Linked DNA regions of Homo sapiens. The protein of the gene in region 2 purifies or fractionates together with the protein of the main gene of each other region. This does not show direct contact. Each region holds a gene or a part of one and is shown on either strand. Other genes may lie near its edges.

Evidence for each region.
Region 1: the proteins of DDX19A (region 2) and NUP214 purify together in Homo sapiens (affinity purification with mass spectrometry; 3 studies listed by BioGRID and IntAct, with this or other methods). This does not show direct contact.

Annotation. Positions count from the first base shown.
Region 1 is NC_000009.12:131,142,574-131,149,605, reverse strand, and holds part of NUP214 (nuclear pore complex protein Nup214), read right to left. Parts: intron 5,327-7,032; coding exon 4,852-5,326; intron 3,478-4,851; coding exon 3,302-3,477; intron 2,120-3,301; coding exon of another isoform or gene 2,117-2,119; coding exon 2,022-2,116; intron 1-2,021. UniProt on the Homo sapiens protein: Part of the nuclear pore complex. Has a critical role in nucleocytoplasmic transport.
Region 2 is NC_000016.10:70,342,487-70,349,910, reverse strand, and holds the start of DDX19A (ATP-dependent RNA helicase DDX19A), read right to left. Parts: upstream 3,009-7,424; 5' UTR 2,920-3,008; coding exon 2,863-2,919; intron 1-2,862. UniProt on the Homo sapiens protein: ATP-dependent RNA helicase involved in mRNA export from the nucleus.

The DNA of each region.
Region 1 (7,032 bases), on a different chromosome or scaffold from region 2:
ACAAGGTGAGAGGTGCAACAGCTTGACACAGGATGCTAGCAGGGGGACAGAGCTGTGGGCTTATGACATGTGACACAGCAGAGGGTGGAGCTGACAAGACCTCCCGCCAGCCTGGACTGGGGACAGGTACTGTTAAAGAGAGGGATCTAGGATGCTTCGGGGCTTGGGGCTTGTGCAAACATCTGGTTTGTTAGTGCTACTTACCCATTGGAAAAGGACTAGCCTCTAGGGGAGACAGAAATCAAGAGTTCTGCTTTAAAGATACTATAATTTGAAATGCCCTTTAGACTATTTGATACTTACAACGATTAACACTAGAGAGGTCTTAGACTGCATCAGCATTCATTAACAGCAAACATTTATTTGACAAACACTGTATGTCATGCATCATGCCACACCGTGAACTGTGACCTGGGCACTTACTATGTACCTAGTACAGGTGTGTGTTAGGGTACAAGGGTTGGTTAGAGGGACACAGAAAGGAAAAGACATAACGCTTATTCTCAGGGCACTCAAGTAATCACGTGGGAAACTGACATACAATTCTCTTTACATTATACCATAAAAATAAACTGAGATGATGGACTACAAATCTAAATATGAAAGATAAAATAATAAAGCTTTTAGAAAAACATCTTTTTGACCTTGAAATAGAAAATTATTTCTAAAACATGAAAAGCATTAATCATAAAAGAAAAAACTGATATACTTAATTATATTAAAATGAAGAATGTGTATTCATCAAAGAAACAAAAAAGACAATGAATAGACAATTCACAGTGAGAACATATTTGCACTGTATGTGTGTGCGTGTGTGTGTGTATTCAAGGAACTCACTCTTAAAAATCAGAAGGAAAAAGCCAGACAATCCAACAGAAAAACAGAATAAAGACATGAACAGACACAACATAAAAGAAAATATTCAAATGGCCAATAATCATCTTTTAAAAAGCTTAATTTTGCTAATCATTAGAGAAATACAAATTAAAACCACAAAACCATACAACAAAAGATGAAAAATACCAAGAGTGGCAAGTATGTGGAGCAGCCAGAAGTCTCATACACTCTTGGTGGGAATCTACTAATGAGGAATACATGCAGATTCTATGACCCAGCAATCTCACTCATAGGGATACACCCAAGAGAAACTTGCATATGTGTTCATTGAAGATGTCAACTGGAACGGTCATAGCAGTGCTACATACAATGGCTTAAACCTGGAAACTACTCAAGCGCCCATCAGAGTGGAACAAATAGTTGTAATATAATCACACAATAAATTCCATACAACGACATGGATAAATCTCACAAACATAATGTTGAACAAAGCAGCCAGATACAAGAATACATACTGTACAAATCCACTTGATAGGAGGTACAGGCAGGCTAACCTCATCTATGCTGTTGGAAATCAAATCAGCTACTCTTTGGCAAGAGTAGTGACTAGAAGGGGACAGGTGAAAAAGAACTCTGGGGTTCTGGCCTCCGCCTCCCGGGTTCAAGTGATTCTCATGCCTCAGCCTCCTCAGGAGCTGGGACTACAAGTACGTGCCACCACGCCCGGCTAATTTTTGCGTTTTTAGTAGAGACGGGGTTTCACCATGTCGACCAGGCTAGTCTCGAACTACTGGCCTCAGGTGATCCGCCCGCCTTGGCCTCCCAAAGTGCTGGGATTACAGGCATGACCCACTGTGCCCAGCCAGGTTCTCGTAAAATTCTGTTTCTTGATCTGGATGCTAGTTACCAAGGTATGTTCAGTTGTTGACAATTCACTGAGCTGTACATGTATCATGTGTACTTTTTTCTATTTGTATTATACATGAATAAAAAATTAAAATAGCTAAATGGCTTTTACGAGTATACAAGTATTCAAACCTCGCACTTTGGTATTTACTATCACATAGTCCCAATTACTATGTCCAAGGTCTGAATTATAAAACATGAAAACTCATTTTATTCATAGGTATGCTTGGGGCAGTAAATTAATAAACACAAACATTGCAAGCTGAATTTAAACATACCTGGGGAGAGCCTGGCTTTGCCGCTGGAGGGGTTATCCTGGGTGATTTCTGTACCATTGAGGGCACTGGGCTTGAACTGCCCTGAGCAGATCGTCCTGCTTGAAAAAGAAGTCAGTTAAAATAGATGGCATTTATTACCTTTATTTCTCCTATCACAAATGTCCTTTCTCCAAATCTAAGAAATTAAGTTACACATTGCCCCTGGCCCACTTTCATGATTTATTTTAAAGAGTGATGACCACCAGTTGTGCTAGCCTCTGTTCTAAGATAATGAAAAAAATATATTAAAATTTTAGGAGCCAGGTATGGTGGCTCAAACCTGTAATCCTAGCCTTTTGGGAGGCTGAGGCAGGAGGATTGCTTGAGCCCAGGAGTTTGAGACCAGCCTGAGCAACATGGCAAGACTTTGTCTCTACAAAAAAATTTAAAAATTAGCCGACGGTGGTGGTACATGCCTGTAGTCCCAGCTACTCAGGAGGCTAAGGTGGGAAGATCGCTTGAGCCCAGGAGGTAGAGGCTGCAGTGATGTGCTTGGGTGAGAGAGTGAGAGGGTCTCAAAAAACAAAACAAAACTTCCTGTTTACAGTATGACTGACTGTGAAAATATGAATATAATCACTGCAGGTACTCTCTCCTCTGTACTTTTTTTTTTTTTTGAGACAGAGTCTCGCTCTGTCGCCAGGCTGGAGAGCAGTGGCGTGATCTCGACTCCCTGCAATCTCTGCCTCCTAGGTTCAAGTGATTCTCCCGCCTCAGCCTCCTGAGTAGCTGGGATTACAGGCACCCACCACCACACCTGGCTAATTTTTGTATTTTTAGTAGAGATGGGGTTTTGCCATGTTGGCCAGGCTGGTCTCGAACTCCTAACCTCCGGTGATCCACCTGCCTTGGCCTCCCAAAGTGCTGGGTTTATAGGCGTGAGCCACCGCACCCCGCCAAACAACTCTTGTGCCTGTGCTTCTTAAAGAACTGTTATGTAACTGCTCTTCATGGAGGGCAGGCTCCATATGAAAATAAATGCCCAAGAGCAAGGCATTTTTGACTCATTAAATACACTTAGCTCCATAAGAAGTGTCAGAGAGAAGAGTGGCAGCATTTAAGCAAGAGCAAATCTCCCAATTCAGAGTATGAAAATCACAGCACATTAATCATTAATGTATGATACAGGAAGCAAGAAAAAATAACCTTGTCCAACTATGTTAGCTACGACTCTTAACACTTAAAACCGTTAATCTGAGAAGGCAGGGCTGAGGTCTAAAGTTGTCTGCTTAAAATCATACCTGATGGTGAGGGCAAGACTGAGGACTTCAATGGCACGGAACTAGGTGGTGCTGAGAGAGGTGTGGGGTGGCTGAGTGGTCCAGAAGCAGCTGGCTTGGAGGCAGAAGAGAATGGCGACATCGGGGGTGCGCTCTGGGAGCTACTAACAGGAGTAGAGGTAGCTGCAGCAGTAAACCTGAAAAATGGCAGCCTGAAGGCCTCAGAAGAGCCTGCTAGAAGATTCTTTTACACTAGCATGAGCAATGTCATCAAAAGATAACTTATTATCTTTTATGTTAACTTACAAAGATAACATACTTTTTGCCTTCAGGAAACAAAAATGTTTAGCTATTTCTTATAAAAGGTGAAAGCTGCAAGGAAACATTTATCTTTTCGTCTGCTTATTTAGGAATTAATTATTCAGGGGAAATATCAAAACTAAGTTTATCACAATATGAAATACCAAGTTTATCATGATATGAAATACTATTGTTTCCAGCTGAGTTTTAAACAGGAGGTGGGACACAATTATGCTTAGGAGAGTTAGTACTTTCTCTTACCAAGGAAATTACTGAGAACTCGTTTTGAGAGTGAGCACCTTCTCTGGGGAGTGAAAAAGGAAGAGGAATGCAGGGAACTGTCTTTGGGATACTTATGGCCTAAAGGAAATGTAAAGTCGGTTCCACCTAAAGAGCAAAAGTCTGTAGACAATCTAAACTCCAGCATTAGATGACTGGTCAGATAAACTGTGGTGCAGTCAACAAAATGGAACACTATGCAACCCTTAGCATGAAGTGGATGTGTGCCAATTCAGTATTAACAGTAACTGTGGTGGCAGCAGCACCACCATAGCAACAACAGATAGTACAGGCAAGTAGGGAAAAAGCTGGTAGTACTTATACTCGATGGTTATCTTGGGAACTCATGGTTATCTTGGGAGGGGTTACAAGATATAAGGGATTGCTTCCCTCCAAAAGCTTACATTCTAGTGGGAAGAAAAGAACAAGATAAAGAAGTAAATAAATAAGAAATGAGTGAGCTGCCCGACCCAGATCTGGAGGAAACTGGATACCAACCTAAGAATTAGCAGTGAGCAGCCACGGGGCTTCATAGGGACTGTCAAGCAGAAGAATCACCTAACAATTTACAGTGTCACAAGATGACTTTGTGGCTGTGTAGACAGCAGTTCAGAGAGAGTTAAGGGTAGACACAGGGAGGAAAAAAGACTACAAGGGATTCATTTCCCTTCCAGGATGCATACTCTGGATTGCTTCTTTTTTTAAAATAAGGAATATTTCCTACATTTGTAACGTAAAAAAGCAAAACAAATACCTGAATATAAATCCCATAGTCAAAAAAATAAAATGCTAGCTAAGAGACCCTTCTGGACTCTATTCACTGATGAAATGCCAGTATTTTATGTTGGTTGAATTTTTGCCATTTGCAAGTATCACTCTGGGTAAAAAAATTCTACTCAGTTAACTCCTCTCAGAGTGACTCTACTTTTAGTAAATAACATCCAATATTTCTACCCAACTCACAGAAGAATCAAACTTTAGAAGTGACTTACTTTTCACTAAGGTTGACTTTGACAGCAGAGGTTGAGGGTGGGAAGGAGGGCTTCATTGCTATATTTGGAGCAGACACACTTGGCACTGGTGTGCTTTCCAGGGTAGGCTTAAAACCAGATGATCCAAAGGAGAATGAAGCAGCTGATGGAGCCACAGGAGACGCTGCAGGGGTGGGGGCTAGGGAGGCTTTAGAAGGGGGAACAAAAGAGAAGGTTGATGGGCCAGGGCCTGGGGCTGCTTTGGAGCTGTCGGAGCCACTGGAATATGAAGGGGGCTCCCCAGTGACCGTAGCAGATGACTTCAAAGATGAAGAACCAAAGGAGAACACAGTGGGGGCTCCACCAGCAGGAAGCAAAGAAAAAGTGGCAATGGGAGCAGCAGGTGATGAAGGTGGCAGAGAGGCAGGGGCTGCAGCTGCAGAAGCATCCAGTTTCTGTGGGGCTTGAGAGGAGGTTGGGGTAGTGGGAGTACTTCCTGCAGTGACAAAAAAAGGAAGGAAAATGTTAACACTGTAACAGTGGAGGTTCACATAATAGAAAGCAAGTGAAAAAGAATTTGTGGTAGAATAAAGCCAGAAATGTTACTAGTTTAAGAAGCAAAAAGAACACATGGGTACACAGTTCATGTTGGAGTTTTCAGGTCTCATGAGATAAATGAAACTGAAGGAAAACTAAGGAAAGACATTAGAATAATTGGACTTCATGGACTTCTCAGTGCTACTATGGCACACAAAACAGTTCAGTCACTGCAACATTTCATTAACAACCAGGAAAAAGTTTTAATTCAGACCTCCACCTTATTTCACTAAAAGTAATTCCAGATAAATACACATAGAAAGTCACATAAATACAGGTATCTCAAAACAAAGGAGGCAAATTGATAGATATGTTAGGTCTCAGAATCTAACACCTTGATAAATTTAGAAGTGACCAAAAAAAAAACAATCGCAAAGGGAGAAGGTTAAGATTTGTGTAAAAAATAGCTACTCAGGTACAATAACTAAATGGTAATGAACTAAAAAAAAAGATCCATAGCAAATGACAAATAAGATGTTTTCTATTTTTTAAAAAGCTCATACAAATTGAGATTTTAAAATTTCAGGACTAATAAACAGGGAAACTAACTCACATAAAGAAAACACATTCAATCTCTCTAATCAAAGAAATATAAACAAGGTACATTTTTAATTTGTCCTCTAAATTATAAGAATTTAAATATGTCTAACCCCTTATGTTTGGATGGGTAAAACAAACCTGAAACTTTTTATCACTGGTAGGTAACTAGTATTTTTTTTAAGAAAACATTTTGGCATTGTATAAAAAACTGTAAAAAACAGACCCAGTAATTTCTCTTCTAAGAATAAAGCTTACAAACATAATGCAAAAAATGAAAAAGATATTTAATGCAATCCAAATGGTTAAAAAGAAAAAAAAAAGTCAATGGAAGGCTGGGCGCAGTGGCTCATGCCTGTAATCCCAGAGCTTTGGGAGGGCAAAGCAGGAGGACCCTTTGAGTCCAGGAGTTTGAGACCAGCCTGGGGAACAAAGTGAGACCCTGTTGCTACAAAAAAAATACAAAAATCAGCCAGGTGTGATGGCTTGTGCCTGTAGTCCCAGCTACTTGGGAGGCTGAGGTGGGAGGATCGCTTGGACTTGGGAGACAGAGGCTGCAGTGAGCCAAGATCCTGCCACTACACTCCAGCCTGCACAACAGAGTGAGACCCCTGTCTCAAAAATGAATAATTTTTTTTTCTATTTTCCAAACTTTCCATAAGGTAAAAATATTAATCTTTAAATTAAATAACCAACTAAATAAGAAAAGAATTCTTTGTGTCAATATTTTCTATTTATATTAATAGGACTTGGTTGTTCCAAATTAGCTAAGATGGCAGTTTATCTTCATGGAAGACACTTTGTCTAATGCAACGTAATACTTAGATACAAGTATGAAAATACCACTTTCTGAAAACAAAAATCCAAGTAAACTGTCACATTGATGAAAGTATAATAATGCAAGCAAACCTATTCTGTTAATACTTCTTTATACAATAGATATGGAACCAGCTACAACTAACTTCTGTAAAGACATACATAGATGTTAAAACACTTTCATGCATATTAGGTAAACTGACATGAAAAATATATACCAGACCCTAAATAAATCAAAAGCATTTTTTCCAC
Region 2 (7,424 bases):
GAAAAAAAAGGTCTTCTCCAACTATTAGGAAGCCTTTATTTATACCAGCCTTCTGATAAGCTGGATGCTTAGAACCAGATACCAAGTATGTTTAGGCCTATATTTGTGATATTCATGTCACAGCTAGGTTAGGATCACAGATTTCACAAGGTTTGAAACCAATTCTCAGTAACTCTTTCAGAGAAGATCTGATGCTAAACGCTAGATTTTAAACTCCAGAGTGCAAGGACCATGCCCTTGATAATGCTTTGTAATTTCTTTGTGGAAACTGCCAGTTTTATACCTCTGACCTGCTCCTTCTCCTGAACTCCAGTGCTGTATTTCCAAATGTCTGATGGCTACCGGGCAGAAGAGAACACAGCAGGCCTGACCGCTCTCCTTAGGAAAGCCTATTTGCAAGGCTGGCCCTTGGCTGTCACCTGCGAACTTGGACTTTGGGAAGGTTCCCATCATTCCTAGAACTGATAAGAGGGGGTCAGTCTGCCTCAACTCTTTTTAAAAACAGTTGCATGTAATTTATGCTAACCACCTGCATTCCTTCTGGAAGTCTGGAATTCTGGTACATGCTAGGCACAGGGTGACTATATGACAGCCCCCCAATAAAAGCCTCAAGTAGAGTCTCTAACAAGCTTCCCTGACACCACTTCATATGTGCTGTTACAATTTGCTACCGGAAGAATGAAGCACACTCTGTGGACTCCATTGGGAGATAACTTGGAAGTTTGCCTGGTTTCCTCTGGACTTAGCCCATGAGCCTTTTTCCTCCACTAATTTTGCTTTGTATCTTTTCACTATAATAAATCATAGTTGTGAGTACAACTACATACTGAGCCTGTGAGTTCTCCTAACAAATCGTCAAACCTGGCATCTCTTGGGGACTCCCACAACAGGTACTTACCAAGATGTTTCCTTATTTTAAATTCAGAACAGCCAAACCTGAACTCACCATTCCCTTTTTTCTTTTTTTGAAACAGGGTCTCACCGTCACCCATGCTGGAGTGCAGTGGTGTGATCACAGCTCACTGCAGCCTCAACCTCCCTAGGCTCAGGTGATCCTCCCACCTCAGCATCCTGAGTAACTGGGACTACAGGAGTGTACCACCACCCCGCCCAGCTAATTTTTTTTGTATTTTTGTAGAAATGGGGTTTCGCCATGTTGCCCACACTGGTCTTGAACTCCTGGGTTCAACTGATCTGCCTGTCTCAGTTTCCCAAAGTGCTAGGATTACAGGTGTGAGCCACTGTGCCCAGCCTTCACCTCTTTTTTTTTTTTTTTTTTTTTTTGAGACAGAGTCTCACTCAGTAGCCCAGGCTGGAGTGCAGTGGCGTAATTTTGGCTCACTGCAACCTCCACCTCCCAGGTTCAAGCAATTCTCATGCCTCAGCCTCCTGAGTAGCTGGTATTAACAGGGGACGACTACCACGCCTGGCTAACTTTTGTATTTTTAGTAGAGACAGGGTTTCACTATGTTGGCCAGGCTGGTATCAAACTCTTGACCTCGAGTGATCTGCCCGCCTCGGCCTCCCAAAGTGCTGGGATCACAGGTGGGTGCCATCATGCCCGGCTGCCTTCACCATTCTATCAAATCTGCCCTTCCTCCCACTTTCCTATTCCTGTTATTGGGACGTTAGTAGTACCAATAGGATCCAGGTTGAAAACAGAAACCTTTGGCTTTATCTCCCTTCTCTCCTTTATTATGTTAGCAAGTCCTACCCATTCTACCTTCATATCTTATACCCATCCCTTAATTTTCACTTCCACTGCCCAACATAGGCCCTCTATCTCGGGGCTATCAGAATAACTTCTACACTGATATTTCTATTAGCCATCACTTCTAACATATTCTGTTCTCTGTAGTTCAATAAATCCTTGCCAGCCTTGTCTAATTCTGTCAATAGCCCTCTCAAAAATCCCCATACCGGCTGGGCGCGGTGACTCACGGCTGTAATCCCAGCACTTTGGGAGGCCGAGGTGGGCGGATCACTTGAGGTCGGGAGTTCGAGACCAGCCTGACCAACATGGAGAAACCCCGTCTCTACAAAAAATACAAAATTAGCCGGGCGTGGTGGCGCATGCCTGTAATCCCAGCTACTCGGGAGACTGAGGCAGGAGAATCGCTTGAACCCGGGAGGCGGAGGTTGCGGTGAGCCGAGATGGCGCCATTGCACTCCAGCCTGGGCAACAAGAGCAAAACTCTGCCTCAAAAGAGAAACAACTACAACAAAAAAAAAGACAGTCCATTATCACTAAACAAACCTAAAGTTTAGGTCTTAGATATAAGAACAGAAAGCCACAGTGTATGCTGTAATTACATTCCAGTTGAATGAATATTCATTACTGAAAGAACAAGTACATGAAACCGTTACTTTACACATCAATGAAACAATTTGTAGTGCCTCCTTCCAACATCTGCAGTAGATTGAGGTATTAAATCCAAAAGTCAATCTGTTATTCTGCAAAGAGCTACAAACTACCAACCACGTTAAGCATGGATCTAAGAAATGTTAAATACAGAGTAGTACAGAAACATGCGAAGAACAGTCGCGTAATGAAAAAGAGAATCAGAATCTAAACTTGGCTTTCCTTATAATCGTCACCGAGGAGGTCAATAGAGGAATGACAGCATGCATAGTGGGGCGGATTTACCAAAGGATGAAGTCCTTAACCAGCCCAGATGGAGATAAAAAGCTCGACATTGGTCTCTTTAGCTCTAAGAGCAAATCAAGGGCAAGTGACTGCCCTAGCAAACTGCAGGAGCGCGTTGCCCAGGGGCCTCCCCAACCCGGGGAGCTCCCTGTGCTTTTGGGAGGTTTCGCTTGGGCCCCTGCTACGTCCTCCTCGCCAGGAGCTGAGCTACTGACCGACTTGACAGCCGCTTCCTGCTCGTCCACCGCCAGGGCCCACGAGTCGGTGGCCATAGTCCCGGACAAGGGAGACCCACTTGTGAAAATATGCGCTGCACCACGTCGCAACGCGGGCCCTAACCTCGCCACCGGCGCGAGAATGCACCTCACGCGGACCGGAAGCGGCGGTGAGCACAGGTGACGTCAGTTCCCACCCAGCGTGCGACATCATCATTCTGCGCGGCGCCAGGTCTCTCCTCGGGCCTCGCCTTTCCCTTCGTGCGCAAACCTCGCGCTTTTTGCTCACCCTTCCAGGACGCGGCCTCCTCGCTTCTTAAAATGTCTGAGCTCTACGAAGTGGAACTGTTAGCCCTCCGTTTATTGCCTTACTTCACACTGAAATAAGCCAACGTTTATTTTATTTTATTTATTTTATTATTTATTTTATTATTTTTTTTCGAGACGGAGTCTCGCTCTGTCCCAGGCTGGAGTGCCGTGGCGGGATCTCGACTCACTGCAACCTCCGCCTCCGTGTTCAAGCTATTCTACCTCAGCCTCCCGAGTAGCTGGGATTACAGGTGCCCGCCACCACGCCCGGCTAATTTTTGTATTTTTAGTAGAGATGGGGTTTCACCATGTTGGCCAGGCTGATCTCGAACTGCTGACCTTGTGATCCTCCCGCCTCAGCCTCCCAAAGTGTTGGGATTACAGGCGTGAGCCACCGCGCCCGGCCCCCAACGTTTCTTTTTAAGCCTGTCATATCTCACATTAAATGTGTAAGTCTCTGAACTGTAGGGCTTTGAACAAAGGAAAGTTCCATGAGAATACTATATGATGCCAATTTCTACTGTTAGGAACGCGATAACAGGTAAGAAAACAAAAACCAAAACGCAACAGAAGACCCGTAAACCCCATAATTCCACCATCCAATAAACACAACACACAATGCGTTTTTTCGTTTCTTTTTTGAGTCAGGGTCTCATTGTGTCGCCCAGGCTGGAATGCAGTGGTGTGATCTCGGCTCACTGCACCCTTGACCTCCCACCTCAGCCTCCCAGGTAGCTGGGCCCACAGGCCCGCACCACCACTCCTGGCTAGTTTTTAAACTTTTTGCAGAGACGGAAGTCTTCATTATATTGCTCAGGCTGCTTTTGATCTCCTGCTAACTCCAGAGATCCTCCTGCCTTGGCCTCTCAAAGTGTTGGGATTACAGGCATGAGCCACCACACCTGGCCATTATGTTGAAGGACCACCAAATACATAATGTATAATCTATTTATATGAGATTCAAGAATAGGACAAATAAAATCTATGCTGATAAAAACTAACAGAGCTTACCTGTGGAGAAGGATGTTTGGTCCAGACACAAGAGAACTTCCTGGGTGATAGAATTATTCTGTATCTTGATTGGGACCTGGTTACATAGATGTGTAAATTTGTTAAGTCATGCTACTTTGTATTTCTAAACTCATGGAACCATTATTTACAGATATCACCCAGGCTGGAGTGCAGTGGCCGGGTCTTGGCTCACTGCAACCTCTGCTTCCTGGATTCAAGCGGTTCTCCTGCCTCAGCCTCCCAAGTAGCTGGGATTACAGGCACACGCCACCACGCCCAGATAATGTTTGTATTTTTAGTAGAGATGGAGTTTCACCACGTTGGCTAGGCTGGCCTTGAACTCCTGAGCTCAAGGATCTGCCTGCCTGGGCCGCCCAAAGTGCTGGGATTACAGGTGTGAGCCACAGTGCTGACCTGCTTTTTCTTTTTTATAAGCAGTTCCCAAGGAAGAATAACTGTTTTTGTTTGTTTTTTGTGACAGGGTCTTGCTCTGTCACCTAGGCTGGAATGCAGTGGCACGTTCACAGCTCACTGCAGCCTTGATCTCCCAGACTCAAGTGATCCTCGCACCTCAGCTCCCCAGCAGCTGGGAATATAGCACTTCGCCACCACCCCTGGCTAATTTTTGTGTGAGAACTTGTGCATTTAAAATATCATGGTATATAAATTATACCTTTCAATAATGTTGATTAAAAATCAAAAAAAGGGCCGGGGGCGGTGGCTCACGCCTATAACCCTAGCACTTTGGGAGGCCAAGGCTGGTGGATCACCTGAGGTCAGGAGTTCGAGACCAGCCTGGCCAACATGGCGAAACCTCACCTCTACTAAAAATACAAAAATTAGGGCCGGGCGCAGTGGCTCATGCCTATAATCCCAGCACTTTGGGAGGCCAAGGCAGGTGGATCACCTGAGGTCAGGAGATCGAGACCAGCCTGGCTAACACAGTGAAACCCTGTCTCTACTAAAAATACAAAAACAAAATTAGCTGGGCGTGGTGGCGGGTGCCTATCGTCCCAGCTACTCGGGAGGCTGAGGCAGGAGAATGGTGTGAACCCAGGAGGCAGAGCTTGCAGTGAGCTGAGATCGCGCCACTGCACTCCAGCCTGGGCAACAGAGGGAGACCCGGTCTCAAAAAAAAAAAAAAAAAAAATTAGCCAGGTGTGGTGGGGTGCGCCTGTAATCCCAGCTACTCGGGAGAGGCTGAGGCAGGAGAATCGCTTGAACTCGGTAGGCGGAGGTTGCGGGAGCCAAGATTGCCCCACTGCACTCCAGCCTGGGTGACAGAGCAAGACTCTGTCTCAAAAAATAATAATAAAAAGGAATGAAATACATGCAATAACATGGATGAGAGATTTGACATCTCATCGCGTCTCGCTCTCTTGGCCAAGATCAAGTGGAGAGATTTGACATCTCATAGACATTATATTGCATGAAAGAACCCAGGTGCAAAAAGAGTACATATTGCATGATTCCATTCATATAAGCCCAAAACAGGTATATCTAATCTATAGAGATAGAAATCAGAACAGTGGTTGCCTGGGGATGAGATAGAGTGAGTAGGATTGACTGGGAAGGGGTACAAGGGAACTTCAGGGATGATGAAAATGCTCTGTATCTTTTTTTTTTTTTTTTTTTTTGAGACGGAGTCTTGCTCTATTTCCAAGGCTGGAGTGCAGTGGCGCAATCTCAGCTCATTGCAGCCTCCACCTCCCAAGTTCAAGCGATTCTCCTGTCTCAGCCTCCTGAGTAGCTGGGACTATAGGCGCCCGCTACCAGGCCTGGCTAATTTTTTGCATTTTTAGTAGACACAGGGTTTCACCACATTGGCCACATTGGTCTCAAACTCCTGACCTCAAGTGATCCGCCTGCCTCGGCCTCCCAAAGTGCTGGGATTACAGGCATGAGCCACCACACCAGCCAAAAATGCTCTATATCTTGATTGAAGCAGTGATTATACGTGTATACAATTATCAAAACTCATGAAATTTTATACCTACTATCTTTGCGTTGTACTCTATGTAAACTATAGGTAATAGACAAAGCCATGTAATGAAAAAAATCCAACTTAAAAAATACAAGTAGTAATAAATTTATTTGTACCATTAAAAAGGAGGGTGTGAGGATTTTGTTGTTGTTGTTGGGGGAGACAGGGTCTTGCTCTGTCACTCAAGCTGGAGTGCAGTGGCACAAACAGCTCACTGCAGCCTCAAATTCCCAGGCTCAAGCCATTCTCCCACCTTGGCCTCCCAAAGTGCTGGGATTACAGGTGTGAGCCACTGAGCCAGGCCCACTTCTGTTTTTTTTTTGTTGTTGTTGTTACAGAGACAGGGCCTTGCCCTGTCACCCAGGCTGGAGTACAATGATGTGATCATAGCTTACTGTAACTTCAAACTCCTGGCCTCAAGTGATCCTCCTGCCTTGGCCTCCCAAAAGCACTGGGATTATAGGTGTGAGCCACCACACCTGGTTCTTAACACACGTTAACAGGGCAGCTTTCTCTGCAGTACCCCCCTGCTGCCAGCTAGGAATTCAGTGGTGATTAAGTTAGATATACTCACTACCCTTACTGGACTTCAAATAGAAGTGAGGACATATGTTTAACCAAGAGTCCCAAAAGCAGCATGAGGCAAATACACCCTTGTGGTTAAGAGTGTGGGCCCTGGAGCCAGACTGGGCCAAATTACTAGACCTCTCTGTGCCTGCTTCTTTATCTGTAAAATAGGAATCAACACCTTTGTTGTAAGGAGTGAATGAGAGAATCTATGTAGACCTTCAGAGGTTGCCTAAGATAATGCTGATTCAGGAAGTACAGGGCACTATGGGAGATTGTGATGAAGGAACATGCCTGGCATGGTAGCTCACACCTGTAATCCTAGCACCTTGAGAGGCCAAGGTGGGGGCGGATCACCTGAGGTCAGGAGTTCGAGACCAGCCTGGCCAACATGGTGAAACCCCCGTCTCTACTAAAAATACATAAATTAGCCGGGTATGGTGGCAGGCGCCTGTAATCCCAGCTACTCGGGAGGCTGAGGCAGGAGAATCGTTTGAACCCAGGAGGCGGAGGTTGCAGTGAGTCGAGATCATGCTGCTACACTCTAGCCTGGGCGACAGCGAGACTCAGACTCAAAAAAAAAAAAAAAAAAAAACCCTTCCCGAAGAAGTGATTGTTACCTTGGGAACAGGAAGGATTAGGAAAAATGAGATGGAAGGGAAGGACTGAGTGAAGAGGAAAGAGTTCCGTT